Regions from separate parts of the Homo sapiens genome. Here regions 2 and 3 are each reported to be linked to region 1. The links are microRNA targets in miRTarBase. Many come from high-throughput screens and were not tested one by one. Region 1 holds a microRNA gene; each other region holds the end of a gene's coding sequence.

What was found. Region 1 holds the annotated microRNA hsa-miR-1909-5p (UGAGUGCCGGUGCCUGCCCUG, at 3,411-3,431, opposite strand). A microRNA usually pairs through its seed, bases 2 to 8, with sites in the 3' UTR of a target mRNA and lowers its output. Matches are read on the target gene's strand: a 7mer-m8 pairs with bases 2 to 8, a 7mer-A1 pairs with bases 2 to 7 and ends in A, and an 8mer does both.
Region 2: the mRNA of CPZ is a reported target of hsa-miR-1909-5p. The part of its 3' UTR that is shown has no 7-base or 8-base seed match.
Region 3: miRTarBase lists BTBD19 as a target of hsa-miR-1909-5p. Seed matches in the 3' UTR shown: 8mer at 4,197-4,204.

The regions. Positions count from the first base shown.
Region 1 is chr19:1,812,793-1,822,377 of GRCh38, forward strand. It overlaps MIR1909 (microRNA 1909), which reads right to left and starts at 3,446; the gene lies at 3,367-3,446. It overlaps REXO1 (RNA exonuclease 1 homolog), which reads right to left. Exons shown (of 16, transcript NM_020695.4): 5 at 8,727-8,890; 6 at 7,472-7,603; 7 at 7,142-7,265; 8 at 6,226-6,339; 9 at 5,914-6,051; 10 at 5,690-5,803; 11 at 4,915-4,988; 12 at 4,427-4,537; 13 at 3,906-4,021; 14 at 3,639-3,777; 15 at 3,433-3,553; 16 at 2,456-3,362. The coding sequence ends at 3,274. It overlaps LOC100288123 (a long non-coding RNA gene), which reads left to right and starts at 9,297. Exons shown (of 4, transcript NR_152847.1): 1 at 9,297-9,585. RefSeq lists an enhancer at 118-277.
Region 2 is chr4:8,616,735-8,627,765 of GRCh38, forward strand. CPZ (carboxypeptidase Z) reads left to right here. Exons shown (of 11, transcript NM_001014447.3): 10 at 1,695-1,794; 11 at 2,528-3,018. The coding sequence ends at 2,883. It overlaps LOC124900659 (a long non-coding RNA gene), which reads right to left and starts at 8,435. Exons shown (of 3, transcript XR_007058014.1): 1 at 8,086-8,435. RefSeq lists a silencer at 44-237.
Region 3 is chr1:44,811,098-44,822,128 of GRCh38, forward strand. It overlaps BTBD19 (BTB domain containing 19), which reads left to right. Exons shown (of 8, transcript NM_001136537.3): 4 at 942-1,001; 5 at 1,899-1,967; 6 at 2,041-2,172; 7 at 2,277-2,402; 8 at 2,541-4,488. The coding sequence ends at 2,675. PTCH2 (patched 2) reads right to left here. Exons shown (of 22, transcript NM_003738.5): 22 at 10,841-11,031. LOC107984952 (a long non-coding RNA gene) reads left to right here and starts at 9,382. Exons shown (of 2, transcript XR_001738036.3): 1 at 9,382-9,465; 2 at 10,134-10,897. It also overlaps the pseudogene RNU5E-6P. RefSeq lists silencers at 2,822-2,891, 8,563-9,282 and enhancers at 8,002-8,658, 8,473-8,572, 8,603-8,652, 8,659-9,315, 9,972-10,629 and 1 more.

The sequences.
Region 1 (9,585 bases):
GTGGGTCCAGGACAGAAGGCAGGGCCTTGGGAGGGCCTTAGGGAGCAGTGCCAGTGCAGGGGCGGAGCCTGAAAGGGAAGAGGGTGTCAGGGCAGGGCCGGGCCGGGCTTGGTCAGGGAGCAGAAAGAACCTGCACCGCAGGGCGGGGTTGGAAGGGTTCTTGGAAAGGTGGGCCTGGGTCAGGTCGGAATGGGCCTTGCAGACCTGACGGGGCTGAGGCTGGTGCGGCCAGCGTGGCAGAGTGCAGGAGGAAGGACCACAGGTAACGGCGGTTATGTAAGTCATGTCTGATCCGTGTCCTGGGTTCGTTCATTCATCCCATACACGTTCAACGAGCGCCTCCTAGGCGCAGATGCAGGGCTGAGCACCAGGCTGGGGAGAGGCGGTTATAGCCATTGAGACCACCCTAAGGCCAAGAGGAAGCCCGCAGGGTTCTTTCCAGCAGGTGGCAGGGGCTCAGGGATCCTTACTGAAGAAGTGGCAGGGGTGAGTTCAGCGACGAGGCTAGGGCGGGTCCAGGCCAGCGATAGGGCCTGGAGCCAGGGTCAGAAAGTGTGTGCGGAGGGGCTGCTGAAGATGAAATGCCCCCAAGAGTGAGGCTACCTGGGGTGAGGGCCCAAAGGGAGAGGCAAACATGGGTGGAGGGGGATAGGGAAGCCACCTCCCCCATCAAAGCGGCAACCACCTGAGGGCTCTCGGTGATCACAAACCCTCTTTCTTTGGAAGCCCAAATTGGAAGCCTGCTTGGCCCTGGAGGCTGCCAGGGAACCTCTCTTTTTTTGGAGACAGAGTCTCACTGTGTCACCCGGGCTGGAGTGCAGTGGTGCGATCAGAGCTCACTGCAGCCTCCACCTCCTGGGCTCAAGCGATCCTCCTGCCTCAGCCTCCAGAGTAGCTGGGACCACAAGCAGGCAGGCAGGCCACTGTGTTTGACTTCTCTCCTTTCATTCCTTCAACACTTCCCCTGTGCTTGCTTGCTTGCTCAGTGGTTACGAAAAAAAGCCGGGGCTGGGAGTTTGAACACACTGTTCTAATAAACTTTAGAAGAGACCTGGTTGGGTGCAGCTGTGAGGACCAGATTCCCCCACCCCAGCCTTCGCAGGGGGCACTATCTGGGGGCAGGAGCTTGCCCAGGGCACTTGTGCAAAGGCCCTGAAGCCTCCAGTGGCAACAGGTGGCTTCACAAGCTGAAGGGAGTCCCTGGGGGCTGAAGCCAGGGCTGGCCAGCCTTGGGACCCCCCGTGGGCTATGTCCTGAGGCACCAGGTGCGTTCTGGGAAGGGGGAGGCAGACATCACATGGGAATGCACAGAAACAGAGCGCATACACGCCTGCGCCATTTATTTAGAACACAGAGCCGGGCACAGTGGCTCATGCCTGTAATCCCAACGCTTTGGGAGGCCGAGGCAGGTGGATCACTTGAGGTCAGGAGTTCGAGACCAGCTTGGCCAACGTGGTGAAACCCCATCTCTACTAAAAATACGAAATTAGCCAGGTGTGATGGCACAGCCATAATCCCAGCTACTCGGCAGACAGAGGTTGCAGCCAGCTGAGACTGGGTGACAAAGCGAGACTGTGTCTCAAAAATAAAGAAGAAAAAGAAAACAACTCCTTTACAGAAGAGGTGGGAGAGTCACTAGTCACAAGAACAGCCCTCGAGGGTGGAAGGGCCTGGCCTAACCACGGTCCCCCAGGAGGGCCCTGGAGAGATGCAGAGCCCAGAACCGGGAAGGGAGCCTTGGGATGGAGTCCTCTGGGGAGGGCCCCCACGTCCTCATCCCGGGACCTGTGCCCTTGGCCTTGCCCTTCAGCAGAAGCCCAAGACCAGGGTGGCAGGAAACCCACTCCAGGCAACCTGCCCCCAGCTGCTGGGTCCTGTCCCGCAAGGCTCATCACTTTTTCTACTTGAGGTCAATAAAAAGTGGGGCCTAAACACCCCTGGGCCTCCCATTTCCAAATGGGGTCCCGATGCAACCACAGTTGCCCGAGACGTGCGTGCACTACACAATGTGTGGCGTTTCCTGGCAAGGGCCGGAGCAGCTTTCCGTGTCTGCACTCCATCCTTTGACGGGCAACACACAGCAGCTCCCAGTCTCTTTAACCCCCTCTCACCATCTGTGTGCAGTCCCTATCTCTGGGCAGGGCAGAGAGGGAAGCCAGCTCTGTGCACAGGGCCCAGCTCCACACAGGGCTGGGGACACCACCCACTGTCCGAGAGGCACTAGAAGCTGCAGGATGGTGGCCCATGATCTGGGGCTGGAACTGGGACCCCACAGCAGGTGTGGCCCAGCCCTGGGGGAGCCAGCCCTGGGCCAGCTTTTGTGAGGGAAAGTTTCACTGCTCTGTTTTCTCTGCGTTGATGGGAAGAGAATCAGTCCCGGCTGCAGGGACAGTGGCCTCCCCGGGGCACATGCAGAGGCCTCACCAGGCACCAAGACCAAGACCACCACAAAATCTAAAATCCATACAAACATTTATTCTGTCCCTGCCTGGAGGTGAGGGGGAAGGGGGTCCGGAGAGCCCCGCAGAGGAGGACGGGGCTCTAGCGGGAAGACAGTGTCCGGAGGCCGGTGGGCTCCCTCTAGACGGCAGACCCTGGGGCTAACGAGGGGCCAGCTGGGTTCTCAGAGGTCACGGAGTGCAGGGGTGGGGCGGCGAGTGGTGGAAGCCGGCGCCCCCGAAGACCGGCCAGCCCCTGGAGCACAGAGGCGGGTCCAGCCCACACTGCGCTGAGTGTGGCCCTGGCCCCCACTGGGGTCTGTCCCACCCCCACCCCGCAGGAGGGAAGGCAGCAGGCCCGCTCTTCCCGGTGGGAAAGATGCTGTGCAAGTCATCAGGTTTAAATTAAAAATAATAAAAATAACAATACAAAATAAAAAAAGACTGTCTCAAACAAACCTGGGACAAGCCCGCCCCGCGACCCACGTGAGGAGCAGAGGTGCCGGCCACCACCCGGGAGGGAGGGCCTGGCAGGAGGGGCAGGAGGGGCTGCGGGCCGGGTGGGGGCGGGCTCTGTCCTGGTCTCCATCAGCAGCAGTTTCTAGAGACGCCAGAGGGCTGGGGGGCAGAGGGTGGGGACCGGCGGAGGGGTGCGGCAGGACGTGAGCGGGGGTGGGCTGGGCTGGGCGTTCTCTGGCCGCCAGCTCATCCCGCTGCTCTGGGCTGCCTCGGCCAGGTGGACGGGTTACCGGAGATTTATTGCACTGTTTTGGAAGAGGCATGGGGCTAAGGACCAGCGGGACGGCAGGAGAGGCGGGTGGGAGGCGGGCAGGCGTCATCGCTTGGTCTTGGCGTCTTCTCGAACCTTCCAGATCACCAGGTGCATGCAGGCGCCGGCGTCCTCGCTGGAGCTGTGCCCATCCACTGCGGGGCAGATGCGGTGAGCACCCGGCCCCTGCGCAGGGACGGCCCCAGGGCAGGCACCGGCACTCACCATTGTCCTGGATGATCTGTCTGAGGTAGTCGGCCATGAGGTTCCGCAGGGACCGCTTGTAGGGGAGGCCCAGGCGGTGGGGGAAGAGCACAGACGTGTCCACCACGGTGCTGTGGATGACCTGTGGGCAGCGGCAGAGATCAGCGCACGTGGGGCCTGCGCAGGTCCTGCTGGAGAACCGCGCGGGACCCGGGCCGGCAGGGCACCTTCAGGGCCAGGAGGTCGCTCTCCAGGCTGTGTCCGATGAGGATGGTGTCAGCGCTGAACATGCTCAGCAGAACGGCCTGGACGTCACGCAGCGTGACACTTGTGTCGGCAAGGTCAGCCTCCGTCACCCCCGAAAACCTGGGGGAACGGGCAGGAGGGGCACCAGGGCTCAGCCTGGAAGCACTGGCTGGTGGGGCGGGGGAGGGTGGGTCCCTGGGGAGAGGCGGCTGGGAGGGCTCCCAGCTCGTGGAGGGCACTGGCCACACCTGGTGTTGTAGTCCACGATCTCGTTGTCAGGCTTCACGAAGGTGTCATAAACCACGTGCACGTCCGTGTCGACCACCGTGACGCGCGTCAGCTCCAGGCCATATGTGGTGTAGGACTGCGGGCAAGGGATGCACCTCAGATGTGTCCCAGGCACCGGCCTCCCTCCCTCCCCTTCCCTGCCCCTTTGAGTCTCCAGAGCCCCTCCAGGCAGAGGCAGTGACCAGAGACTCTGTGGGACTTCTAGGAGAGGCCGAGTGGGGTGTGACCTCAGTAACCCCCTTTCGCAAAGCCCTCCTGCCTCCCATTCAGAGGCAGAGCCGGGGCCCAGTGCCCGGTGTGCTTGGCTCTGCTGGGAAGTATGGGGTGTTGGTCCAGGGCAGGAGCCACAGGCACCGGTGCTGCGAGAGAAACCCTGAGCGCTGGCCGGTGAGCCAGGCCCAGATGGGGCCAGATGGGGCGGCCGCACCAGGCCAGGTCCTCCCCAATCCTGAACCCGACGCTGGGCAGAGAACAGCCTCACCATCTCGCAGTCCAGGGCGTAGATCCCCGGGTGGGTGTCTCCTGAGAGCTCTTTCTCAAAGGTCTTCACGAAGCCCTCAAGGCGCTCCTTCCGGCCATCCTGCACGTGTTGCTGGGGGTGGAGAAGGCAGGTGAGGGCAGCTTCGGGGTGCAGTGGGGGCGGGGGTGGCAGCAGCAGCACATCTCTGAGCCCTTCGGGACCATCCTATCCATCCATCACGCCCATTCACTGGTTGGGACCCTGGTGAGCAGGTGGGGAAGGGGGCTTGCCAAGAAGACACAGGGAGGACGGCTTCCCAGGATGGGAAGTGGCCAGGGACAGGGCCTGGGGCCTACGGGTGCTACGTTCTCTGGGTAACACAAGAAAGGCTGCCCGGGGGCCCAGACCCTGAGCCCAGGACTGTGCTGTGTCCCGAGACCCCACACCAACGATGGGGAGGCAGAAGTCTGTTGAGAACAGGCAGAGGGGACTGGGACGCCAGGGCTCACCTTTGCGACTTGGCAGCCGACAGAGCCGGCGGCAGCCGAGCAGCACATGTACTGGGTCTCCCAGCCTCCGGCCACTGCAGGGGACACAGACACACAGTCAGGGCCCGGCCAGGCCCACTCCACAGCCCCCGGGGCACTGACCACCTGCATCTACCGAGCCCTACTAGGGAGTGAGGACTGAGGACAGGAGGCCTCAGCCTCTTGGTGGAGCTGGAAGCAGACCAGGCCCCGGCAGTCGTGTGGCAGCCAGGACGCCCAGGCCTGGATCCAGGGAGACCAGTGCCCTCTGCAGAGGCCTCTTGGCAGCGCTGCCCCGGGCAGCACCCTCCAGGTATCCCTGAGGCGATGGCTTTAGGGGCCGCCACAGGGCTGTGCAAGGCTGGCCATGTGCCCTGAGCGTGGCTGCGTGGTTGCCTGGGGGATTGAATAGAACCACCAGGCCAAGGGTGGGACAAGCCCCTCCGCTCCTGGGGCCAGCAACCTCCACATTTCCATGGACCAAGGGCACAGGAAGGCAGGGACACAGGGCCTTTCAGGTGGTGGCATTTGAACCTTGTCATGGGAAAGCTCTTGTCTTACTTTTGCATAAAGAACAGGTGGAGAGAAAATGAGGCCAAGGGCTAGCCCCGGCTCTGCCAAAGACGGTGCAGCCCAGGGACCCTGAGTGGGATGGAGGGCCTGGGTAAAGCCTTACCCCAGTTCTGGGGGCCTCAAGGGAGGGCCCAGGTTCCGGGGGCCATGGGTGGGAAGGGGAAGGACCCGGGTAAGGCCTTACCCCGGTTCCGGCGCAGCCGTCCCCAGTGGTAATAACACTCCTCGTCCCGGATGCAGCGGCCTGAAGAGGACACGAGGTACTCGGTGCCACAGCGGCAGCAGGTCCTGCAGGAAGCTGTGGGTGGGGACCCAGGTGGAAGCTGAGGCTCACGCTGGGGCCCGCATGCCCGGCCTTGCCCACATCCCGCACCTGCCCACCTAGGCCGTCGCAGGCCAGCGACTCACAGTCCTTGGGCCTCTTCTCCTCAGCTGTGAAGATGATTGCGCCCCCGGGCCGCTCTGGGTGCGGGAAGGGGTAGCCGTTCTCCTTGAGCTGGTCCTGGGTGAGCAGGTACTCCCTGAGGCGGCTGTACAGGGCAGCCCCTGTGGACAGGCACAGTGGTCAGCCCCTGCCTGGGATGGCCCACGGGGCGGTAGACACCACCGGGAAAGGCGGCTGGGCCGGCAGGGGCCCACGAAGCACCGTGTGGCACAGCAGGGGCTGGGCCGGCAGAGGCCCACGAAGCACCGTGTGGCAGAGCAGGGGCAGGGCCTTACCTTTCAGGTCCTCCACCCGGGGGCTGCTTGGACGGCTGAGCGAGAAGCTGGTCTTGGCGGCCAACCTGCCCCCCAACACCACCTCGTGGGACACAACCCTGCGGCCACTGGTTTCTGGAAGGAAGGGAGGGAGGGGAGGAGGGTGTGAAGTAGCTGGCTCAGACCCCTGCCCCGCCTGCTCTCCCACCCACCCTGCCCTCCTCAGACCTCTGCCTCAACTCCCCCTTTCTGGGACAGCACCCCACTGACCCCGGGTTCCAGCCTGACCCGAACAGGAGAGGCAGACATGCGGTGAGCCAGGGACGCAGGGCAGCCGCCAGCTCTGCAGGCCCCAGAGCTGCACGGAGGCCCCACACCCAAAGTCTTCGTCCCCTCCCCTCAAGCGAAGGGGGAAGGGCGGGGAGAACAGCACGGGGGATCTAATGGCTTTCGAGGGCTTTGAGCCTTCATGGGCCACCCAGCCTGCGACGCCAACCCAGGGCCCCTCCGAGTGCTAATGCAGGCGGGGACGGGGGCAGGGGCCGGTGATAGCTTAATGCAGCCTGGAGAGGCTGCAATGAAACGCCCAGGTCTCCGCTTTCTTCCTCCCCAGAGCTTAATGCATGGAGCTCGCCCAGCCCTGGGCCTCCTGCTTTGAAGAAGCTGCCGCAGCTCCATTAGCAGGCGGCCCCTCGGCTCGGCTTGGAGACCCCACTCAGCGGAGGAAGGCGGCTGACAGCGAGGACACCAGGGCCAGGTCCGTCCTACACAGAAGCCTGGGAACCAGGCAGCAGGCAGCCCCCCCACAGCACCGCGCTTTCCTTTTGTCTGAGACTGTGGCTGAGCTCAGGGCTGTGAAGGTCCCAGCGAGGGTCCCAGCCCAGCTGCCACCCCAAGAGCAACCCTGAGCCTCCCCCGCCCACCCGCCAGGACTCACTGCTGAGGCCGGGCACAGCGCTGGGGGCCAGGCCCCTGAGCTTCTTGAGGGTGTTCACGGCCACATTCAGGTAGATGTTCTTGCTGGGGCTGCGGTCATAGGCCACCTTCTCCTCGTTCAGTGCCTGGGGGACAGGCGGTGCCCAGCTGAGGCCATGCCTGCCTGGTGCCGGGGAGCCCCAGCGGTGGGGTCGCCATGGGGTCGGGGACTTGCATCTCTCCCAGGCAGCTCCGGGTCACAGCTGCGGCTGAGAGGCCGGGGGATGTCTGGGGACCACCCTGGACCCCTAGTCCCCACCCGACCGGCCAGATAGGAACTCCAGGACCTCACCTTCTCTATGGCCTCCTGGTTGGAGGTACAGAACTTGAGACACTCCTCGATGAACAGGTTGAGATAGCGCTGGCGGATGACGGTGGGGACTTTGCCCCCAAACTCTTTGGGGATAATGGGTTTCTTTAAACTCTAGAGGGAAGGCAAAAGCTGCCATGGGTGAGGGCCTCCACAAGGCCTCCAGCGGGGAACGCAGACGCGATGAGGCCGTGCCCATGGCTGGAGGCAAGAGTGAGGTGCGCTGGGACAGATCAGCCTGGCTGCAGTAGGGACAGACACGCCAAGGCAAGACAGGAGCAGCAGGGGAAACTGAGGGCAGCGGAACTAAGGTCATGGGAAACTGAGGCCATGGGGGCACAAGGGAACTTGCTGTACTTTCTGCTCAATTTTCCTAGAAACCTAAAGTTGCTCAAAAAACATAAAGTCTATTAATTAAAAACAAAACAAGGCCAAGCGTGGTGGCTCACGCCTATAATCCCAGCACTTTGGGAGGCTGAGGCAGGAGGATCACTTGAGGACAAGAGTTCAAGATCAGCCTGGACAACGTGGCAAAACCCTGTCTCTACAAAATAAAAAACAAAATTATTAGCTGGGGTGTGATGACACCGGCTTGTGGTCCCAGCTACTCAGGAGGCTGAGGTGGAAGGATCACTTGAGCCCAGGAGGTCGAGGTTGCAGTGAGCCATGATTGCGCCCCTGCACTCTAGCCTGGGCAACAGAGACCCTGTCTCTAAACAAAAAAAAAAAACACCAACCAACCAAAAAAACAAAACAAGACAAAACAAAAAAACACCGCCAGGGCGGTCGGGCATGGTGGCTCACGCCTGTAATCCCAGCACTTTGGGAGGCCGAGGCGGGTGGATCACGAGGTCAGAAGATCGAGACCATCCTGGCTAACATGGTGAAACCCCGTTTCTACTAAAAATACAAAAACAGCCAGGCGTGGTGGCGGGCGCCTGTAGTCCCAGCTACTCAGGAGGCTGAGGCCAGAGAATGGCGTGAACCCAGGAAGCAGAGCTTGCAGTGAGCCAAGATCGTGCCACTGCACTCCAGCCTGGGCGACAGAGCGAGACTCCATCTCAAAAAAAAAAAAAAAACACCAAGGCATGGGGAGGGAAGGTGAAGGCTGTACTGCGGTGTGGAGCACGAAGGCCCGCAGGGCAGGGGCGAGGCTGGCCCTCCGCAGGTCCCATGTGGCCGGGCCTCAGGGCGTGGTCTTGGGGGTGGTGGTCCTGGCCGAGATGGGAGGGGCTACCTGTAAGGATGGACTGTGGGCGATTCGCTTAGGGATGATGGTGGTGGTAGTCTTGGACGCCATCCCCGACAATGTGCGTGTTTTCAGCTGCTGGCCACCTGGCTCAGGGCCGTTGGAGGACTGGCTGCCGCTGGCCGCAAGGGTCCTCTTGGCACCTGTGGGGGCTGGCGGGGCACAGGGGGTGTGGGCACAGGGCGAGTGGCTGCCCATCACCACGTGGCGGAGCACCAGGCAGCCGCGGCCGCTCAGCGCCAGCAGCACGTGCATCTCCGCGTGCAGGGGGCCGGGCCAGGGTGAGGGGCTGGGGCTGCGCAATGGCATCAGGCTCTAGCTGCCTTCAGGCAAGTCCATCGAGGCAGAGGACACAGGTCAGGCTGCGGAGGCCGCTGAGGACACGTCACCGGTGGGGTGGTCCAGGCCTCTGCCACGTGTTCTGACCCCAAGCCCAAGGCGTCGATGTCTGAGGGAAAGGCCCTGGCTCCCGGACAGAGGACCGAAGGGTCTCGGGTGCCCCCACCTGCTCATTGGCTTTGCCCTGCCCTGCGGCCTCTGTGTTCTGCCTTGCCCTTTGATGAAGTCACAAACCAGAGGGAGGAGGCCAGGCCTGCAGGGGCTGCTTCGGAGGGCTGGCCACGCGGGCAGCTGCAACCTGGGCATGTACGTCTGTGTGGCAGGGGGGCTTCTGGACTGGGGGCTCGGCACCGACCCAGGAAGGGGAGCTGTGAGCAGGGACATCTGGCCCTAGTCTCAGAGCAACATCCCTCGAAATGCCATCTGGCCCTGGAAGGTGCAAGGGAGGCAGGATGAGTCTGCTCATGCTACCGCGGGCCGCCCAGCAAGGAAGCAGGCTGCCCGCCAG
Region 2 (11,031 bases), not on the chromosome of region 1:
CTCTTCATCACCTCTCATGCAGGAAAACCTTACTTTTTATGCTCTCCCTCCCGCTAAATGCGAGTCCATGAGACATTGTTTCAGGAGTGCGGTTCCATTAAGCAGCGAAGTGTGGACAAGAGCATCCAGGGTGGGGGTCACGAGCCCCAGAGGGCAGGGGGCAGTGGCTGTCAGTCCCTCTCCATCGCGTCAGGAGGGCTGGGACCCCTTGATGTGCTCATCATGGATTCCATGTGCTCTGGGTTCCCGAGATCCCTGTGGCACAGAGATAAGTGCTAGCATGTGCTTTGTGGAGCTAGACTGGGTGCCCACTCCCCTCTTTCAGCCACCTGCACCACTGACAGCTGGGCGTGAGCCTGGAACAGCAGTTAGGTGCCACAGGGTCTGAGCTCACGGGCCGCGTGTGTCAGGCCAGTCGGTTTCTGCATCGGTCACGGCGGGGGTCAGCCGCGGTGGGATTAGAGTTCACATGCTTGCTGAAATCATCGGTCCTGCAGAAGCCAGAGCTGCTTTGGCCTCATGAACATTTTACAGCTGAGGAAACTGAGGCACCCAGAAGCAAAGGTTTGTCTGAAGTGAACAGTCACTACGGCAGAGCTGATTTTCTGGCCCAGAGAAAAACCAGCCCCTCTCGGGCTAATGTCCCGGGGCCAGGGAAGGAGGATGCTCCTGTTGCCAGGGCTGCTTCCTGACCCTGTGGGCCCAGGCTCTTTGCTTCTGTGGACTCCTCCCTCCATATAAAGTATTTAAAATTATACAACAGTCGACATAAAGATGAATATATAGGAAAACAGTCTCTCCAACCTAAAATGTTTTGCTTTTATCCTGATTTTAAGAGGAGCAAGATCATTTTCATAGTTTCTGGAAGCACAGCAGGGCCTGGCTGGGAGCCCTTTCCCTTGAGAATCTGTTGCTGCTGAGCCCCGTGCAGGGCCCGGGCAGGGGGCAGCCTCGCTGGACGGACTCCTCTCCCCACAGGCATCCTGGTCCTGCTCAGCGTGACCTTCAGCATCCTTGGACCCCACGTTGTTTTCTGCTGACTAGAGCAGGGGCCGTGTGGGTGGTTTGTCATCAACTGTTTTACAAGAAATGTGGACAGGATCAGGCAGCTTTGGGAGGGCTTTCCAGGGTGAAAACGTTGGAGCTGTGGGCGTGCAGGGAGCTTGTGTGTTCAGGACCAGTTCGTGCCAAGGCCAGGCAAGCAGTAAGAAGGCAGGGCGTGTTATACACGTGTACGATGAAGAAACCGCGCTGCTCGAGCGAGGGTCCGAGCACTGTCCTCGTCCTCTCCCATGCCCACGCCACCTTCAGGAGCCTCAGCTCAGAGGGACCCAGGGAGTCCCGCTGGGGCTGGGAAGGCAGGGAAGGAATGCCGATCAGGCAGAAGAGTGGCAGGAAAGGGTTCTCTGCTCAATGCCCATAGAGATGGAGTCAGCCAGGCCTCGGGTGAGATGCAGGGTCATTCAAAAGCCCAGAACGTGCTCGGGTCAATTGCCAGGGAGGAAACTGAGGCCCAGAGAGGGGAGTGACTGACTCGTTAAAGATGGCAGAGCGAGGGCTGGCAGAGTGGGGCTCTGTGGGGTAGTTCCCCCTAGATACCAAGCTCTGAGGAGCATGTGGGGAACGAGCTGACGGCCTCCACGCTCAGCAGGAGAGCTCACGCCATCTCCCTGGCCTCCCCTTGGTCTCTTCAGGTGCACCGGGGCATCAAAGGTGTGGTGACAGATAAATTCGGCAAGCCAGTCAAAAACGCCCGGATCTCAGTCAAAGGCATTCGCCACGACATCACCACAGGTGAGCACGTCCCTGGCTGTCCCCTGGGGACCACGTCTGCCAAGGAAATGCCACACCGTGGCAGCCGGCACCCTCAGGCACTCACAGTGTGCCCAGCCCTCAGCAGGATGGCTCCATTCCTCCCCAGGCTGGCTGGGTCGGGGAGGGTGGGCAGGAACCAGGGTCTGCGTCTCCTTACAGCATTTGGTGAGGGAAGAGCTTGCCCAGCCGTAGCTACTGAATGATGGTGGATGCATGCTCTGTATTCCTAGGAAAATGCCGCCTCCTCCAACATTGCCGGGGAGAGCCACCTCCACCCCTAAGCCTGTTTGTTTCTATCCCAAAGTTCATACCCTGTTGATAGCTGGGGTGTCCAGCCCTGTGCGGGCTCTGGCTGTCCTTACAGGAATTTCACAGCCGATGAAAAATGACGGTATGCTGTGATATGTGTTACCTGGCAGAGATGTGGTCCAGAGAAGAGGGGGACTTTTGCTAACTGTGGGGTGGGTATGGGGGGTGGGAGTGGTCATCGAAGGTTTCAGAGAAGAGGGGTGCCTAAGCAGGGTTTTGAGGTATAAATAAGAGTTTGACAGAGAAAAGGGGTGGGAAGGACGTTCCAGGCCCACACAGAGGCAAGTGCACATTTGGCGCCTGCCTCCCATGCTAACCTCTCCCCACTCATATCCATCACCCATCACCCCGTGGCTGGGTCTGCAGTCCTCGTGAGAATCATTTTTAATCTATTTGTCCACAGCCCCAGATGGTGACTACTGGAGACTGCTGCCCCCAGGTATCCACATTGTCATTGCCCAAGCCCCTGGCTACGCCAAAGTCATCAAGAAAGTCATCATCCCCGCCCGGATGAAGAGGGCTGGCCGTGTGGACTTCATTCTGCAACCTCTGGGGATGGGACCCAAGAACTTTATTCATGGGCTGCGGAGGACTGGGCCCCACGACCCACTGGGAGGTGCCAGCTCTTTGGGGGAGGCCACGGAGCCCGACCCGCTCCGGGCGCGCAGGCAGCCCTCGGCCGACGGGAGTAAGCCCTGGTGGTGGTCCTACTTCACATCGCTGAGCACCCACAGGCCACGCTGGCTGCTCAAGTACTAGCCCCGGCCCCAGCACCCGCCAGGATGTGGAGACCGAGGCCCATCTCCGCATCCCGGGCTCCTGGCTCTTGATTTTGTCTGCCACAGACATCCCACAAAGCCGCTGCCATTTTATTAAAGTGTTTTGATCCACTTTGCACTGGAATGAGAGGATCTGTGTAAGGCACTTTCCAGGGAAGGCTGGGGACTGACCCTTGTTGCCTGAGGGCAGCTGTGGCCTGGGCCCCACAGGGCAATCCCGGGCAGCTATCCTGCTGCCCACAGGTCCGGATTGCAGGCCCGAGACTCCAGCCTATCTGTACTGGGCCAGGTGGACTAGCTGGCTTTTCCCAGACCACCAGGCCTTGAACTGACTTCAGATGGGAAACTGAGGTGGGCCAAGGGTGTGAGCATCTGTAGGAGCTGAGCTCCGGATCCTGCAGCTGAAGCTCATGTGTCCTGGAGTGTAGAGAAGGAGGGGCACTGAATGGGAGGATGGGGGTGGGCAGGAGGTGACCCCAAGGTAGGGTCAAGAGCTCAAGGGCGGGAGAGCTGGCCAGAGCCTGGGGCCTCATGGCATGATCGGGGGGACCACACTCAGGCTCACAGGCTTCCAGGGGGGCCTGGCTCCATGGGCGTGGATATTCCTGGGACCTCCCTCATCCTGATCATGCTACTTGGGTCCAGGGACCCTCTCCTGTCCCCTCTCTCACCATCGAGAAAGTCTGTCAGCCCCGGGATCTTCCAGGAAGGGGTCCCGTAGCCTGAGCAGAGAATGCAGCAGAGAAGGCACCTGAGCCGGCCAGGGCTGTGTCAAAAAGCAGCAGAGACCTGGCGCTTCAACAGCAGAAGTGTGTCCTCCCACAGTCCTGGGGGCTGACGTCAGAGCCATGTCCCCAGGGCGGGCTCCTTCTGGCACCACGCTCCCTGGCTCTTTGGCGGTCATCTTTCCCCCACTCTTCCCATCATCATCCCTCTATGTGTCTCTGTCCACATTTCCTCTTCTTGTATTGGGCTAGGGCCTAATATAAGACCCTAGCGACCCTCATTTTAATTTAGTTACCTTTACAAAGATGCTACCTCCAAATAAGATCACACTGAGGACCTGGGGCTAGGACTTCAGCAGATGAATTTTGTGGGAGGGACATGGTTCAGCCCCTAGGAGAGGGCAGCATCTCCCATACAGTGGCTCCTCACATGCTCCTGGCTGTGCCATCGGCCCCCCTGGTTTCCAGAGCTCCAGGCCTGGGCAGGTCCCTCCATGGAACTGGGCATCCACTCTGAGCAGTGCCTTGACCTCAACTGAATGACAGCATGGTCCCCACCAGCACCCTCAGCCTCGTTCCATTGCCTCCTGGCAGCTATGCCCTGAGGCGAAGGCCTCGGGGTTCCCAGCTGAAGCCCAGAGGAGCAGGCACACCCCCGGCGCTGGGTGGCGTGCTCTCGGGGGAAGGCATGGGGAGGGCTCAGGCAGCCTACAGCCCTCAAGTCTTACACTGGCACAACAGCGCTTGGTTTGCGGAGCAAGAATGATCTGGAGTGTTTGGGGAACATCTCACAGCCTCCTGAGCCCCTGCATCCTACATTCACCCATGCGCCTAGTGACTTGTAAGTTTACATTTATTTGGCTCCACTGCATACAGGGCACCGTGCAGGGGTCCTCTGAAATCCCGGGAGGCCCGTGGAGCAGACCTCTGCTTCGTGCTTTGCTGAAGTGGGTGTGGAAACAGCAGGCGCAAGGTGCCCAGGACTCGGGGTGTGCAGGTGGCCGCTCAGTCTCAGTCCCCCCGTGGGGCACCTGCACGAGGCCTTCCCTGCACTTCATTCTGTCCCCACCCGTTCACGCTGTCTAGGGAAGAGCCTGCTGCAGTGGGTGTGTGGGGTGGAAGGACTCATTCCAGAGCCCAGTTCGTGTCAGGGGCCAAGGGCCAGGCCCCCGGCATAGAAACTGGGCCGAGGAGTGGGTCAGGGAGCCTTGGGGAAGGCTGTGCAGGGGGGCCGTGGCAAGAGTGGGGGCCGGGGAGGTGGAGACGAGGAGATAGCATTCTCTTCACACACCACCCCGGATCCAGCCAGCGGGGGGCCCTTCTGCACTTCCATGTCCTTTTTTGTTGGTTTGTTTTGAGACCGAGTCTCACTCTCTCGCCCAGGCTGGAGTGCAGTGGCGCGATCTCGGCTCACTGCAACCTCCACCTCCTGAGTTCAAGTGATTCTCCTGCCTCAGCCTCCCAAGTAGCTGGGATTACAGGTACCTGCCACCACACCCGGCTACTTTTTGTATTTTTTTTTTTTTTTTTTTAGTAGAGATGGAATTTCAACATATTGGCTAGGCTGGTCTCAAACTCCTGACCTCAGGTGACCCACCCGCCTTGGCCTCCCAAAATGCTGGGATTACAGGAGTGAGCCACCACGCCCGGCCCCTTGTCATTTTGCTAGAACCTGCACAGTCCTTAGTGACGTCCTTGCCTCTGGCAGGATCCCCTGGCTGGGCCCTGCTGCCCCCCTCACTTTCCTCAGTCCCTGCTTTCCAGTGTGAAAGCTGTCAGAATCAAAATGGAGACACTTGTCTTAAACAAAACAAAACAAAACCCCAACCAATAGAGCTGGGAACAGCCCTGACGGTATTCCCCATAAAACCATCACAGAAGACAGCAAACACCACAATCGTGAGCAAAGTCCATCACAACCTCACACAAAAAACACTTCTGTGAGGACACCTGCCCAACCTCAGACTGTTACCACCCGTGTTCTCGATTCCTGTGGCAAGGATAAATATCCCAAAACAATTCTGTGATTCTCTTCACTTTGCCATTAAAGCCTCTGTGCTTTTACCTCCCTGAAAACGCACAGCGGACTCCAGCATACGTATTTGCACGCAATGCCCGACTCCTGAACGAACCTCGTTTTCATTTGGAGAGCCTCTCTGGCGGTGGTTCGGGTGGACGCTAGTGTGGACATGGCATTGGGAAAACGCTGCCTGTGCACCAGGGCTGCCTGTTGCTCCAGGGGTGCTCACTGCTTCCAGGCCCGTCCGTGGACAGAGCTAGATATCCAATTGTTTTTAAAGGGAAAACACAAGGCCAGGCGTGGTGGCTCACACCTGTAATCCCAGCATTTTGGGAGGCCGAGGCCGGTGGATCACCTGAGGTCAGGAGTTCAAGACCAGCCTGGCCAATATGGTGAAACCCTGTCTCTACTAAAAATGCAAAAAAAAAAAAAAAAAAAAAAAAATAGCTGGGCAAGGTGGCAGGCTACTCTGGTGGCTGAGGCAGGAGAATGGCTTGAACCCAGAAGGTGGAGGTTGCAGTGAGCTGAGATCACACCATTGGACTACAGCCTGGGTGACAGACCAAGACTCTATCTCAAAAACAAAAACAAAAATAAAAAACACAGAGGGTTCCTGTTGCTACTTCCAATTCCAAACCAGAATGACCTTCTCCTGTGCAGAGAATCCCAGATTTCAGGGCAAAGGAGGGGAAGGACAAAGTAGAAAGTCACACAACTGTGCCTGCTTGATCCAAAGCACACACGACAGTCTCACAGCCCAGTGCTAGTCCGCTACCCACAGTGCAATCACTGCAAACAGCTCCAGTTGTTTCCTCAAGTTCCTTTGGTTCTGGGATATAACCCACTAGGGCTATATGTAAGCTCCGAGGATTGGCTTTTAATATTCCTGGCAGCTGAGAAGAACAAGGTGCCGTGAAGAGCCACAGCCCCTCCAGAAACTGCACCTGGGCAGCGGGCCGTGTGGCCACAGCTGAGACCCTGAGGAGTGGGTCCCCAGGGGACTGGTCTCGGGGAGAGGGGCTGCCTCTTAAAACACGACGATGGACAGACAGATGGATACGTTCAACAGCAGCATGAACAAGTTCTACAACTAGAAATCATTATTTGTAAAGGAAAAACCCATTTACGAGTTGAATCAGAGGAGAGGCTCGTGTCTCTGAGTTCTGAATTCATGTGGGGAGGAACAAATAGAGGAATTACCTGAAACGTAAAGCAAAAATACTGCCTCGAGGAAGTTATGAGGGAAAAGAGATTTTGAGAACAGATCCAGTAGCCCCATATGCAAATAATAGGGAAATAAAATATAATAGAAGAAAGGCCGGGCGCGATGGCTCACGCCTGTAATCCCTACATTTTGGGAGGCTGAGGTGGGCAGATCACTTGAGGTCAGGAGTTCGAGACCAGCCTGGCTAACATGGAGAAACCCCATCTCTACTAAAAAATATAAAATACAAAAAATTAGCCGGGCATGGTGGCAGGCACCTGTAATCCCACCTACACTCGGGAGGCTGAGGCAGGAGAATCACTTGAAACCATGAGGCAGAGGTTGCAGTGAGCCGAGATTGTGCCACTGCACTCCAGCCTGGGCAACATAGTGAGACCCTGTCTCCAAAATAAATAAATAAATAAATAAAAGAAGACGGACTGATGTTTACAAAGCATTCAGAGGAAAGGGCTCTGCCCTGACACTCTATACCCCAGCATGGATAATAATAATAATCAGTGATATAATAATAGCCGATGCCCATGGACAGTTTTCCCTATCCAGGCACAGCTTCAGTGTTGTCTGAGCTTGTTTAATTTGTTTCCTCTCCTTAAGGAGAAACATATTAGAATTATCTCCATCTCACAAGCACAGACAGGTCAAGTGACTTATGCACCATCACACAACCAGGGTTAGAAACCAGAAAACCGGGCCAGGTGCGGTGGCTCACGCCTGTAATCCCAGCACGTTGGGAGGCCAAGGCGGGCTGATCACGAGGTCAGGAGATCAAGACCATCCTGGCTAACACAGTGAAACCCCGTCTCTACTAAAAAAAAATACAAAAAATTAGCCGGGCGTGGTGGCGGGCGCCTGTAGTCCCAGCTACTTGGGAGGCTGAGGCAGGAGAACAGTGTGAACCCAGGAGGCAGAGCTTGCAGTGAGGCGAGATGGCGCCACTGCCCTCCAGCCTGGGCGACAGAGCGAGACTCCGTCTCAAGAAAAAAAAAAAAAAAAAAAAAAAAAGGAAACCAGAAAACCTGGCTTTGGGATGGGTCTGTGTTCTCAGCCACTCTCTCACTGCCTCTGCAGATAGAATGCATGGGTCACAGAGAAAGAAAGACATGTCCAGGTTGGCAAGGATGAAGGGAAGATGACCTCCGGACCCTCCTCTGAGCAGACGAGCATGGACTTAGCACAGAGCCGGCAGGAGGAAGAGGAAGGAGGGCTACTCACCTCCGTGAGACATTCAAGGCGACGTGAGAGCCACCGGAAAGTGAGGTTTGAGTGTGGAATCAGGAGCATGCGATAGAGAGGCATCCCACGGCTGACCTCCTAGGCCTGGGGGTGTAAGTGGCCAGAAGCCCCCGGGGGCTCAGGCGCGGTGGGGAGAAGGTGCACCCAGTCCCTGGTGGAGGGTGGCGTTCCGGTTCCTGTCCTGCAGGACTGGGAATCTGATGTTGAGGATGCAAGGGAACAGCGCCGCCTGGTGGCATCGGAACACCGGGACCACGCGGGGACCCTGAGCAGGAGCGAGCCCTCGGTGGAAACCGGGAGAGAAGCCTGAGCCAGCTGCAAACCCAGGCAACTGCAAAAGAGCCACAGGAGGAAGAATGGGGAGGACCAGGAACCCGCAGAGCGGGAATCGGATGCGGGCTGCACTCCTCGTTAAAAGACCACCCGACTGGTCTGAAAACACGTTGCATGCGATTTAAAGAAGCGTGATTACGGGCCGGTGATAAGGCTTCGAATAAAGTGATGCCGGCTGGGCTCAGTGGCTCACACCTGTAATCCCAGCGCTCTGGGAGGCCAAGGTGGGCGGATCACGAGGTCAGGAGATTGAGACCAGCCTGGCCAACATGGTGAAACCACGTCTCTATTAAAAATACAAAAATTAGCTAGGCGTGGTGGCGGGCACCTGTAATCCCAGCTACTCGGGAGGCTGAGGCAGGAGAATCGCTTGAACCCGGGAGGCAGAGGTTGCAGCGAGCCGAGATCACGCCACTGCACTCCAGCCTGGCAGACAGAGCCAGATTCTGTCTAAAAAAAAAAAAAAATGATGGTGCCAAGCAGCCGCAGGTCGGACAGCAAGGCACGCTTTAGTACAGAGGCGGCGAGGTGAAGAGCAAAGCGTGAAGTGGGAAAGACATTGTGAACAAGTAGTAAGATAAAAAATAAATCTGTATTATACATGAATCAATTCAGCAGGTAACTCTATAAAAGCCAAGTTATTTAGAAATATAAGAACTTAATAAAAGCAGGATCCCAGATGGTCCCATGCTGGGTACCATCTTCAGAATCAGACCTCCCTCATCCTGATCATGCTACTTGGGTCCAGGGACCCTCTCCTGTCCCCTCTCTCACCATCGAGAAAGTCTGTCAGCCCCGGGATCTTCCAGGAAGGGGTCCCGTAGCCTGAGCAGAGAATGCAGCAGAGAAGGCACCTGAGCCGGCCAGGGCTGTGTCAAAAAGCAGCAGAGACCTGGCGCTTCAACAGCAGAAGTGTGTCCTCCCACAGTCCTGGGGGCTGACGTCAGAGCCATGTCCCCAGGGCGGGCTCCTTCTGGCACCACGCTCCCTGGCTCTTTGGCGGTCATCTTTCCCCCACTCTTCCCATCATCATCCCTCTATGTGTCTCTGTCCACATTTCCTCTTCTTGTATTGGGCTAGGGCCTAATATAAGACCCTAGCGACCCTCATTTTAATTTAGTTACCTTTACAAAGATGCTACCTCCAAATAAGATCACACTGAGGACCTGGGGCTAGGACTTCAGCAGATGAATTTTGTGGGAGGGACATGGTTCAGCCCCTAGGAGAGGGCAGCATCTCCCATACAGTGGCTCCTCACGTGCTCCTGGCTGTGCATCGGCCCCCCTGGTTTCCAGAGCTCCAGGCCTGGGCAGGTCCCTCCATGGAACTGGGCATCCACTCTGAGCAGTGCCTTGACCTCAACTGAATGACAGCATGGTCCCCACCAGCACCCTCAGCCTCGTTCCATTGCCTCCTGGCAGCTATGCCCTGAGGCGAAGGCCTCGGGGTTCCCAGCTGAAGCCCAGAGGAGCAGGCACACCCCCGGCGCTGGGTGGCGTGCTCTCGGGGGAAGGCATGGGGAGGGCTCAGGCAGCCTACAGCCCTCAAGTCTTACACTGGCACAACAGCGCTTGGTTTGCGGAGCAAGAATGATCTGGAGTGTTTGGGGAACATCTCACAGCCTCCTGAGCCCCTGCATCCTACATTCACCCATGCGCCTAGTGCCTTGAAGGTTTACATTTATTTGGCTCCACTGCATACAGGGCACCGTGCAGGGGTCCTCTGAAACCCCGGGAGGCCCGTGGAGCAGACCTCTGCTTCGTGCTTTGCTGAAGTGGGTGTGGAAACAGCAGGCGCAAGGTGCCCAGGACTCGGGGTGTGCAGGTGGCCGCTCAGTCTCAGTCCCCCCGTGGGGCACCTGCACGAGGCCTTCCCTGCACTTCATTCTGTCCCCACCCGTTCACGTTGTCTAGGGAAGAGCCTGCTGCAGTGGGTGTGTGGGGTGGAAGGACTCATTCCAGAGCCCAGTTCGTGTCAGGGGCCAAGGGCCAGGCCCCCGGCATAGAAACTGGGCCGAGGAGTGGGTCAGGGAGCCTTGGGGAAGGCTGTGCAGGGGGGCCGTGGCAAGAGTGGGGGCCGGGGAGGTGGAGACGAGGAGATAGCATTCTCTTCACACACCACCCCGGATCCAGCCAGCGGGGGGCCCTTCTGCACTTCCATGTCCTTTTTTGTTGGTTTGTTTTGAGACCGAGTCTCACTCTCTCGCCCAGGCTGGAGTGCAGTGGCGCGATCTCGGCTCACTGCAACCTCCACCTCCTGAGTTCAAGTGATTCTCCTGCCTCAGCCTCCCAAGTAGCTGGGATTACAGGTACCTGCCACCACACCCGGCTACTTTTTGTATTTTTTTTTTTTTTTTTTTTTTAGTAGAGATGGAATTTCAACATATTGGCTAGGCTGGTCTCAAACTCCTGACCTCAGGTGACCCACCCGCCTTGGCCTCCCAAAATGCTGGGATTACAGGAGTGAGCCACCACGCCCGGCCCCTTGTCATTTTGCTAGAACCTGCACAGTCCTTAGTGACGTCCTTGCCTCTGGCAGGATCCCCTGGCTGGGCCCTGCTGCCCCCCTCACTTTCCTCAGTCCCTGCTTTCC
Region 3 (11,031 bases), not on the chromosome of region 1:
TTAATTGCAGCTACTTGAGAGGCTGAGGCACAAGAATCGCTTGAACCTGGGAGGCAGAGGTTGCAGTGAGCTGAAATCGTGCCACTGCATTCCAGCCTGGGTGACAGAGCAAGACTTGCCCTCAAAAAAAAAAAAAAAAAAAGAAAGTGTGATAGAGAAGCGTGAATGGTGCCGAGACTGTATGGGGGGACTCTCCAGTCCCGCCACTAGGGAGAGGAGAAGACTTCCCAGAGGAGGAAACATTTGTGTTCGATCTGGTAGAACAAATAGGATTTTGTTCCTAGGGGAAGTGGGAAGATGGTATTCTAGTCACAGAGGCACCAAAGGAGCTAGTGAGACATTTGGTGTGTCTGAACTGTGAGGAGAGGGCAAGACGAGACTGCAGAGGACGCCAGGGCCTGGTTCATGTAGGGCCCTCAAGCTTTTGGACTTCTTTTAAGCAGAGGGCAGTGGAGATTCACTGAAGGTTTCCGATAAGGGAGTGAAGAATTGGAAACTCAGGGGAGAAGGGATTGGAAGAGGTGGAGAGGACTCGCTAGTCCAGTCAGGAGGCTAGTGCAGCAGTCAAGAGATGAGAGATGTCACGGATGAAATTCAAGTTTCTGCTAAAAATAGAAGTATCCTTGAGTCAGGAAGGGAACAAGTGGAGGAAGATAAGCATCCTGAAAGAAGGGGAGAATTTTGCATGGCCTTTATCTGGTTTTGATTAGTGGCGAATGTACTAGAAGGTGGGTGGCTGGGCTTGGTTTTGCTAGTCTCCAGTTCCTGTAAGCCTGCTGTCTCAGGCTCTAGCAATTCCCTGCCTCCCCTGGCCTGGGTCAGGATGGGTCTGGGGCTGCTGGGTGACTCACCGCTCCAAGCCTGCTCACTGCTTCTGGGGTGGAACTAGTGTCTTGGAGCAGGGACACCGCCACCCAACCCACATTCATTTCTGTTCCCAGCTGTGCCTGCAGTTTGTGGTGAAGGTGCTGGATGTGGACTTGGTTTGTGAGGCCCTGCAGGTGGGTGCTGCTGGACAGGCATGGTAGGAGTCTGGCTCTGTGTGTGGAAATGGGCTCCCAGCACCTGGGAGCCTGGGCCTGCTGTGTCTGGCCTGGAAATAACTTGGGTACATGGTGGTGGTGGGGGTGCTCCAAGGATGTTTATAGGATGAATTCTGTGCCTAGATCTGTGGGATCCTGGGTGTATCAGCAGGGTCAGGTGCAGGAGCAGGTGTTGAAGGGGCTGGAGGTCTTTGCTGGTCTTCTGTCTGTCAGGGCTGGGGAATGGTTCTCAGCTTGACTTGGGGTAGGGAAAGGGTGGCTGTAGACTTTAGAAGTCAAGCTGGGTCAGGCACAACGGCTCACACCTGTAATTTCAGCACTTTTGGAGGCCGAGGCGGGCGGATCAAGAGGTCAGGAGATCGAGACCATCCTGGCTAACACGGTGAAACCCTGTCTCTATTAAAAATACAGAAAATTAGCCTGGTGTGGTGGCATGCTCCCAGCTACTCTGGAGGCTGAGGCAGGAGAATCGCTTGAACCCGGGAGGCAGAGGTTGCAGTGAGCCGAGATTGCGCCACTGCACACTCCAGCCTGGGCAACAGAGTGAGACTCTGCCTCAAAAAAAATCAAGCCTAGGTCCCAGGTGGGGTTTGAAGGCCATGGCGTGGTCTCCTGTAGGGAAGAGCAGGTTGTAGAGTGAGTCCACGTGTGTGTGTGTGTGTGTGTGTGTGTGTGTGTGTGTGTGTGTGTGTGTGTGTAGCAGGCTTTCATTGGGTCTAGTTTCCTGGAGGGCTGAGGGCCCTGTCAGCCTCCCCAGCTAGGGCTAGGGTCAGGCTTGCAGTGGTGGGTCCCAGTGAGCAGGCTGGGCTACGGCCTCTCCAGTCTCCAACCTGATCTCCCTCATTCTGCTCGCAGGTGGCCGTAACCTTTGGCCTGGGGCAGCTGCAGGAGCGCTGCGTGGCTTTCATAGAGGCCCACAGCCAGGTACTGCTCCCTTCATACTCCTCACCCTACGCACCGCATTCTGCTCCTCCCTGACCCATTTGCCGGCTCGCAGGAGGCCCTCCGGACCCGAGGCTTCCTGGAGCTGTCGGCGGCCGCGCTGCTGCCCCTGCTCCGCAGCGACAAGCTCTGCGTGGACGAGGCTGAACTGGTCCGCGCGGCCCGAAGCTGGGCGCGCGTGGGCGCGGTGAGTGGGGCTGGGGGAGCGCAAGGGCACGGAAGGAGGTGCTGGCCACGAGACTGGTGAGCGGGCGGCAGGACAGGTGCCCGACTCAGGGCTGGCGTTTGCAGGCGGTGCTGGAGCGGCCGGTGGCTGAGGTGGCGGCCCCGGTGGTGAAAGAGCTGAGACTAGCCTTGCTGGCCCCGGCGGAGCTGAGCGCCCTGGAAGAGCAGAACCGGCAGGAACCACTCATCCCGGTGGGGACGCGGGGAACCGGCCCAGCTCCACTCAGCAGGGGGTACAGGGCGCTGGGAGGGGGCAGGAGCAGCCCGGCCCACGGTCCTCGGGGCGAGGGGCCACCGCGGGACTGCGCACTAACTGGCCTTGCTCTGCAGGTGGAGCAGATTGTGGAGGCGTGGAAATGCCATGCCCTGCGGAGAGGGGATGAGGCCCGGGGCGCCCCGTGTCGCCGCCGGAGAGGCACCCTGCCCCGGGAGCATCACCGCTTTCTGGACCTGTCCTTCAAATGATCCAACGCCGGGACTCGCAGGGAGCCCTCGACCCGCCCAGCTGAGCCTGCCCCAAACTACAGCTCCCGAAGTGCTCGGCGTTCGGAGCGGGCTTCCGTTCCCAGCGTGCCCAGTGAGCCGGGCGCCGGAAGAACCGTTGTCTGCCACGCGCAGCCCCTTGTGCGGGATCAAGCCCGTGTGGGCGAGGTGGGGTCGGGCCGGGCAGGGCTTGGGCTGGGCCTCCCTGAGGGGGTGAAACTCGAAAACGAGGATTTCCTTCGTTCCACACCCTGACTCTACGCCCTGCCCCTGGGCATTGTCGTCTACTAGTCTATTCTGATGACTCCCACATATCTATCTGTTCAGCTCAGCTCCCTCTTTCTTTTCTTTTTCTTTCTCTTTCTTTCTTTCTTTCTTTCTTTCTTTCTTTCTTTCTTTCTTTCTTTCTTTCTTTCTTTCTTTTTCTTTCTTTCTCTTTCCTTCCTTCCTTCCTTCCTTCCTTCTTTCTTTCTCTTTCTCTATCTCTTTCTTTCTTTCTTTCTTTCTCTCCTCTCTCTTTTTTTTGAGACGGAGTCTCGCACTCTCGCCCAGGCCGGAGGGCAGTGGTGCCATCTCGGCTCACTGCAAGCTCCGCCTCCCGGGTTCACGCCGTTCTCCTGCCTCAGCCTCCGGAGTAGCTGGTACTACAGGCGCCCATCACCACGCCCGGCTAATTTTTTTGAATTTTTAGTAGAGACGGAGTTTCACCGTATTAGCCAGGATGGTCTCGATCTCCTGACCTTGTGATCCGCCCGCCTCGGCCTTTTTTTTTTTTTTTTTGAGACAGAGTCTTGCTCTGTCGTCGAGGCTGGAGTGTAGTGGTGCGATTTCGGCTCACTTCAAACTCCGCCTCCCGGGTTCAAGCGATTCTCGTGCCTCAGCCTCCTGAGTAGCTGGGATTACAGACATGCACCACAACGCCCGGCTAATTGTTGTATTTTTAGTAGAGACGGGGGTTTCACCATGTTGGCCAGGTTGGTCTCGAACTCCTGACTTCATGTGATCCGCCAGCCTCGGCCTCCCAAAGTGCTGGGATTACAGGTGTGCGCCACCATGCCCGGCCTCAGCTCCTTCTTTCATTCCAGACCTGCCCCCCTGGAGATCGCTCCCTGAATGCCCCTCAGACACCACAGGCTCGGCGAGAAATTGATCTCCCCAGCTTTTCCCCAGCTCTGCCCCCATCGTGTTTCTCATTTCCGTGGACACCCACGCCAGAAACCTGGATCTCATCCTTGCCTTATCGCTCTTCACACCTGCCTTAGGTCTCTTTTTACCTTGTAAGAGACCTTAAGAGACCTTTCCAGTTGGTTCAGTTCTCTCAGCCCCAGGTTCAACCTGTCCTGTCTGACACGTCTCACAGCCTTCCTGCCTTCACTCCAGCGCCCCCTCAATCCATTTCCCACAGTGCAGCCAGACCTGTTTTTGATTGTCAGTCCTATGGGGCTTAAGTCCTGGAACATCCCATTGACCTCCAGGACAAAATTCAATCTATTTCACTTTCAGGGCACTCAAAACTACTAGTGAGTGGTTCCTCACCTCTTCTCTCAAATACAATCTTTGTATAAATTCATTTATCCTGGAGGTATTAGTCCTCTAGCTCCATACCTTACTCAGTTACTGCAGACCCCTCTGCTACCTCCTTCATTCACTATACATCTTGTTTTCCCGAGGATGTGAATCTCCCTCAAGAAAGATCCCTGGGGCCTGGAGTGGTGTCTTACTCGTTTCTGCTTCCTCAGTCTCTGTCAGATAATCAGTGCTATGTAAATGTTAAGTAAATGACTTTATTTATTTATTTATGACACAACCTTATTCTCACCCAGGCTGGAGTGCAGTGGTGCAATCTCGGCTCACTGCAGCCTCAGCCTCCCAGGCTCAAGTGATCTTCCCACTTCAGCCTGCTGAATAGCTGGGACTACAGGCATGTTCCATCACATTCGGCTAACTTTTTTTTTTCTTTTTGTAGAGATGAGGTCTCCCTACGTTGCCCGGGCTGTTCTCAAACTCCTGGGCTCAAGCAATGGTCCCACTCCGTCCTCCCAAAGTGCTGGGATTACAGGCATGAAGCACCACCACACCCAGCCTATTTCCTCATTTAAATGCCACTTTATTCCATGAAGAGTTTTAAAGGAGCTGCAAAGCAAGATACTGTCAATCTAAAATGAGAGACAGTTGACTATTTAGAAGAAAATAAAGTTAGATTTCTATCTCAGGGACTTCATACAAAAATATATTGTACAGGAGGCCAGGCACCGTGGCTCACGCCTGTAATCCTAGAACTTTGCGAGGCCGAGGTGGGTGGTTCGCCTGAGCTCAGGAGTTCGGGATCAGCCTGGGCAACATGGCAAAACCCTGTCTCTAAAATACAAAAAACTAGCCAGGTGTGGTGGCACATGCCCGTAATCCCAGCTACTTGGGAGGCTGAGGCACGAGAATTGCTTGAATCTGGGAGGCGGAGGTTGCAGTGAGCTGAGATTGTGCTACTGCACTCAGCCTAGGCAACAGAGTGAGACTCTGTCTCAAAAAAAAAAAAAAAAATATATATATATATATGTATATATATATATACACACACACACACACACACACACATAGATGTGTGTGTATATTATATATACACATAGATGTGTGTGTATATTATATATACACATAGATGTGTGTGTATATTATATATACACATAGATGTGTGTGTATATTATATATACACATAGATGTGAGTATATTATATATACACATAGATGTGTGTATATTATATATACACATAGATGTGTGTATATATTATATATACACATAGATGTGTGTGTATATATATACACATAGATGTGTGTGTATATTATATATACACATAGATGTGTGTGTATATTATATATACACATAGATGTGTGTGTATATTATATATACACATAGATGTGTGTGTATATTATATATACACATAGATGTGTGTGTATATTATATATACACATAGATGTGTGTGTATATTATATATACACATAGATGTGTGTGTATATTATATATACACATAGATGTGTGTGTATATTATATATACACATAGATGTGTGTGTATATTATATATACACATAGATGTGTGTGTATATTATATATACACATAGATGTGTGTGTATATTATATATACACATAGATGTGTGTGTATATATATTGCACAGGGATTAAAGATAGTTATTTAGCATTATCTCTCGACAGAAAATGTGCTTACTCAGTAGTACATGGCAGCATTGATTGGATAGTGGAAATTGAAAATCATCTATACGTCCATTACCAGAGGACTGGTTATATTAACTATGGTATATTCCTGTAATATTTAAAAAATCCATGATCTTTGGTGAAAAAAGCACAGAATAGACCAATTACAGCATGATTCCTCTTGTTAAAAGAAAAAAGGTAGCATAGTGATTAAGAGCGTGTCTCCTGGAGCCAGAATGCTTGCATTTGAATCCCAGCTCCGCCACATATTTTCTTTGTGATTAACCTTTCTTTGCCTCAGCTTCCTTATTTATAAAATGGAGATAATGGAACCTATTTAGTAGAGTTTTTAGGAAGATGAAAATAATTTCATAAAATACTTAGAATTGTAGTGGGACAGATTAAATTCTGTATATGTGTTTAGAAAACATATTCATTCATTTGTTCCACAACTATTCATTGAGTGCTCACACACTAGACATTGATTTACGGTCATGGAATAAGTACATCAGACAACAAGTCAAGTCAAGTCTTTGCCTCATGGAGCTAACATTCTAAGAGGAGAAACATGCAGTAAACAAGTAAAGAAATGTATGCTCTATTCAGGGAGTAGTTTGTGCTATGAGGAAAAGCAAAACAGGTTGAAGAGATAGCTATGTGGTGGGAGTGGGACTATTTCGTACAGGGCACTGATTGTAGACCTCTGATGAGATAACATTTGACAAGAGATCTGCAGGGAGCTATGTGTCATGGGGGAAGGCATTGGAGGGTTTTGTGCAGGACAGTGATGTGTGATCAGATTTAGTTTAAAAGAATAATTTGGGCTGGGCATGGTGGTTCCTGCCTGTAATCCCAGCACTTTGGGAGGGTGAGGTGGGCGAATCACTTGAATCTGGGAGTTTGATACCAGTTCGGGCAACATGGCGAAATCCCGTCTCTACAAAAAATACAAAAATTAGCCAGTGTGGTGGCACGCGCCTGCAGTCCCAGCTACTTGGGAGGCTGAGGTGGGAGAATTGCTTGGATCTGGGAGGTGGAGGTTGCAGTGAACTCAGATTGCGCCACTGCACTCCAGCCTGAGATTGTGCCACTGCACTCCAGCCACTGCACTCCAGGAAGACCCTCTCAGAAAAAAAAAAAAAAGAATTTGGCCGTTATGTGGAGGACTGGAATTGAGAAGGGCAAGAGCGAGGTAGAAGAGTGGTCTAGGGAGAACAGTTAGGGGCTATTGCAATTATCCAGCAAGAGATCTTGGACCAGGATGGCAGCAGTGGAGGTGGTAAAATGTGGTTGGATGAAGCGTACGCTTTGAAGGTATCAACAGGACCAGCTGATGGAAGGGAGTCAACAGGACTAGCTGATGGCTGTAAACTGGGGGGTCACTAGCTATCAGATGGCATTTACTTAAAGCCATGGAAGTAGGTGAGCTCCCTTATGGAGAGGGAATAGGAAGGAGGTAGACCATTCTATCAAAATGCTCTTTCTACAGGGCACTTCTCACTGAGATATTATTTATCTGGGATTTATATTATTTATTCAATTTGTTTTGTGTTTGGTTCTATTAGAAAAGCTCCATAGGGGCCGGGCACGTTGGCTTTTGCCTGTAATCCCAACACTTTGGAAGGCCGAGGCAGGCGGATTACCTGGGGTCAGGAGTTTGAGACCAGCCTGGCCAACATGGTGAAACTCTGTCTCTACTAAAAACACAAAAATTAGCCGGGCGTGGTGGTGCGCCTGTAATCCCAGATGCTGAGGAGGAGAATCGCTTGAACCCGGGAGGTGGAGGTTGCAGTGAGCCGAGATCGCGCCACTGCACTCCAGCCTGGGCAACAAGAGCGAAACTCCCTCTCAAAAACAAACAAACAAACAAACAAACAAACAAAAAACAAAAAAAAGAAAGAAAGAAAGAAAAGGGCCAGGTGTGGTGGCTCACACCTGTAATCCCAGCACTTTGGGAGGCTGAGGCAGGCGGATCACGAGGTCAGGAGATCGAGACCATCCTCACCAACACGGTGAAACCCCGTCTCTACTAAAAATACAAAAATTAGTCGGGTGTGGTGGCGGGCGCCTGTAGTCCCAGGTACTCCGCAGGCTGAGGCAGGAGAATCGCTTGAACCCGGGAGGCGGAGGTTGTAGTGAGCCGAGATTGAGCCACTGCACTCCAGCCTGGGTGACAAAGTGAGACTCCATCTCAAAAGAAAAAAGCTCCATAGGAGAAGGAACCTTGTCTCTTCACCACATAAACTGTGTTTGGATTCGCAATCGAGTTGGGAAAAAAAAATCAGTCTGGAAGAGCCACACCAAACCGCTAACAGCTACTGTCTCTGGGAATAGAACAAGGAGTTTGGTTGGCGCGATATACCGCCCCTGAACCTCTAGCCACAATAAGGCTTAATTAATGACCGGACGACTTGAAAGCGCCTTCCACTGTTTATCTCTTAAATCTGCAACGAAATGCAACAAAAACGCAAGAAATAAACAATAGAAGCCAGTCTTACTGCACACTGCAGAAGCCAATAAACCCCAAATGTAGCTCAAAACAAGGTGTCACGCAAACTTCTGATTTTTTTTTGTTTTACACTGAATCTCTGTCACTCTGACTAGAGGGCAGTGGCGCGATCTCGGATCACTACAACCTCCGTCTTCTAGAGTCAAGAGACTCTCCCGCCCCAGGAGTCTCTGCCACTCTGACTAGAGGGCAGTGGCGCGATCTCGGATCACTACAACCTCCGTCTTCTAGAGTCAAGAGACTCTCCCGCCCCAGCTTCTCCAATAGGTGGGATTGCAAACAGGCACCACCACGCCCGAATAAGTTTGTGAACATTTGGTACAAATAACAAATGACCAAGTTCCTTGGTTGTAGTTGCCTAACTTTTAATACTTAAAAATGTAGCCTCAGGAAATAAGAGGCCTCAAAAAATTGAATAAAAACTCACAACTTTCTCTCCACGGAAATCTTTAGTAAAAGGCGAAAGATTTATGCGCTTTGAAGAGAAACCCGAGTATATTCGTGACTTCCGCTTCGAACCTCGCAGGGAGAACTAACACTTAACACACTTATGGTTGTTGGATGCCTGCGTGGTACGCACTCCCTATATGTAGTTTATGCACACAGATGCGTGTAAGAGGCATCATGCTCTAAAACAGTGCAGAAATGCGCGCACAGAGGGAGTGCAAGCATCTTGAGGGTATCTTTTCGTGGTGCACCATGGGTATGCAAATCACAGGCGGCTCCGGGCTGTTCCGCGCCACCGGGGAAGCCATGGGTCACTGATCTCCTTTGCTCTCCTATGCTCCTCTCTGCTGGTCCTCCTGGGACCCGCACCCCGTGGGCGGCGCCGGGTGCGGAGTCCTTTGCGGAGCTGGTGTTCGTCCCAGGGGTTAAGGTCCTGTCCCGCCGTCCTTACCCGCAGTAAGCCTCCGGGCTTAGAGAGAGGGACGGGGAAACAGACGGGCACAGACACTCAGGGGCACTGGGACCTCACAGGAGGCACGACCCCACCCCTCCTGGAGGAGATGGCATCCGATCCAATTCACCTCGAAGGGTGATATGGGGTCACATCAAGGGGAGGTGAGAAAGTGTTCTAGGCAGAGGGAATGGCGTATGAGAAATTAGGGACCCGAAGACCAATTCAGCCTGTCCAGACAGTGGCGCTCCGTGTGTCTGATGAGGGGGTGCTGGGGTGGGAGGCAGAGGCTAGATCTCCTCGGGCCTGGAAAGATGAAGATGAGGAGGCTTAGTGAGGCTGGCTAACTTGCCCAGGGTTACTCCGCTGGTAAGTGGCACTGAGGGCTGACCCCCTTTGCACTATTCTGGCCTGGTGAGCTCTCTCTGCTCCACCTAGAAGGCCCTTCTTGGTGACCCAAACACTGCTGGACCCAAATGCAGCCTCCCTCCCTTGGGCCTGCTGGTTGCACCCCCTACTCTAGGTTCTCTGCCAACTACCCGCTTCTCTTGAGCTTTTTAGGCATTTTAGCGTGGATTCAATTGCAATAGGCGTTTTTTGTTGTTGTTGTTTTTGTTGTTGTATCTTTTGGTCAGAACATGATTTCCTGGCCTTTGTCCAGGTGGGGTGGGATGTGAGAACGCATTGTTCCTGGGGTGGGATCATTCCTGGTGAGTGGGTGGTTGGAGCCCAGGGTCTATGTGAACTAGACTATGGGTCCTAAGCTATGGCTGGGAAGGGGCAGTTGCAAACCTCCCCACGCCTCTAGGTGAGGCTCTGTGCTCTATTCCAGGGCTGTGGCCACTCTTCAAGGCCTCTGCTTAGTGGAGCTGTTCAACTTTCACAGAACAAACAACTTACGCTGTGTCCTCACTAACTGCTAGCACCTCAGTTTCTGAGCAGTTCCCGCAACTGATCCACTGGCTGACTGGCCAAAGACACCTCTCGGCTGTCAGGACAACCAACTTACAGAGGCCTTTGCCTTGGAGGTTGCTCTGGAACCTGGCTCCTTTCCCTGGGTCCACAAACCTCCTGAGAAGCTCCCCAGACCCTGTTGACCTCTCTCTGCTTCAACTGGCTGCTTTCCTGATCTGCCTCCACCTCGCCTTCCACCTGCTGCATGGCTTTGCCCCTCTGCCTTGCCGTTTCCCGTGCGGGTGAAGCAGGTAGGTGGAGGTGAGTCTGGAGAGACGGGCAGGCTGGAATATGGTGGCTCTGAAAGCCACACAGTGGGGTTCTTTTTTTTCTGCTCTCGGTCTCCAGATTGAACCCAGTAGGATTTCACACCAACAAAATTTGTTATCGTTTTGTATAGTAAGCACTTAATCCAGATGATGTTACCAAGTATATGACAAAAATCCAGAATCTGGGGTCTTTTCCACCCAGAACTAGAGAAGCTAATACCTCAGGTCCTGGCACCAGAGAAGCTCCTTCCAATAGCTAATGTTCACTTGCAAACTCCCCACTCTGTCCAAAAAAAAGCACTGAAGTCATCTGAGATTAGTTCACATAGAATATATTTCATTCTTTAAAAAATAAAACTTTCATCATAGCTAACATGTATGTATACTACAAAAATAGACATTTTCATATAAATAATGGATGTGGTAGGAGGTGGGCAGGGATATGGAGAGCCTGCCCAGGAGTCACCAGACGGAAGGGTGCTGGAGGGTCCCTCAGGCTTGGTCAGC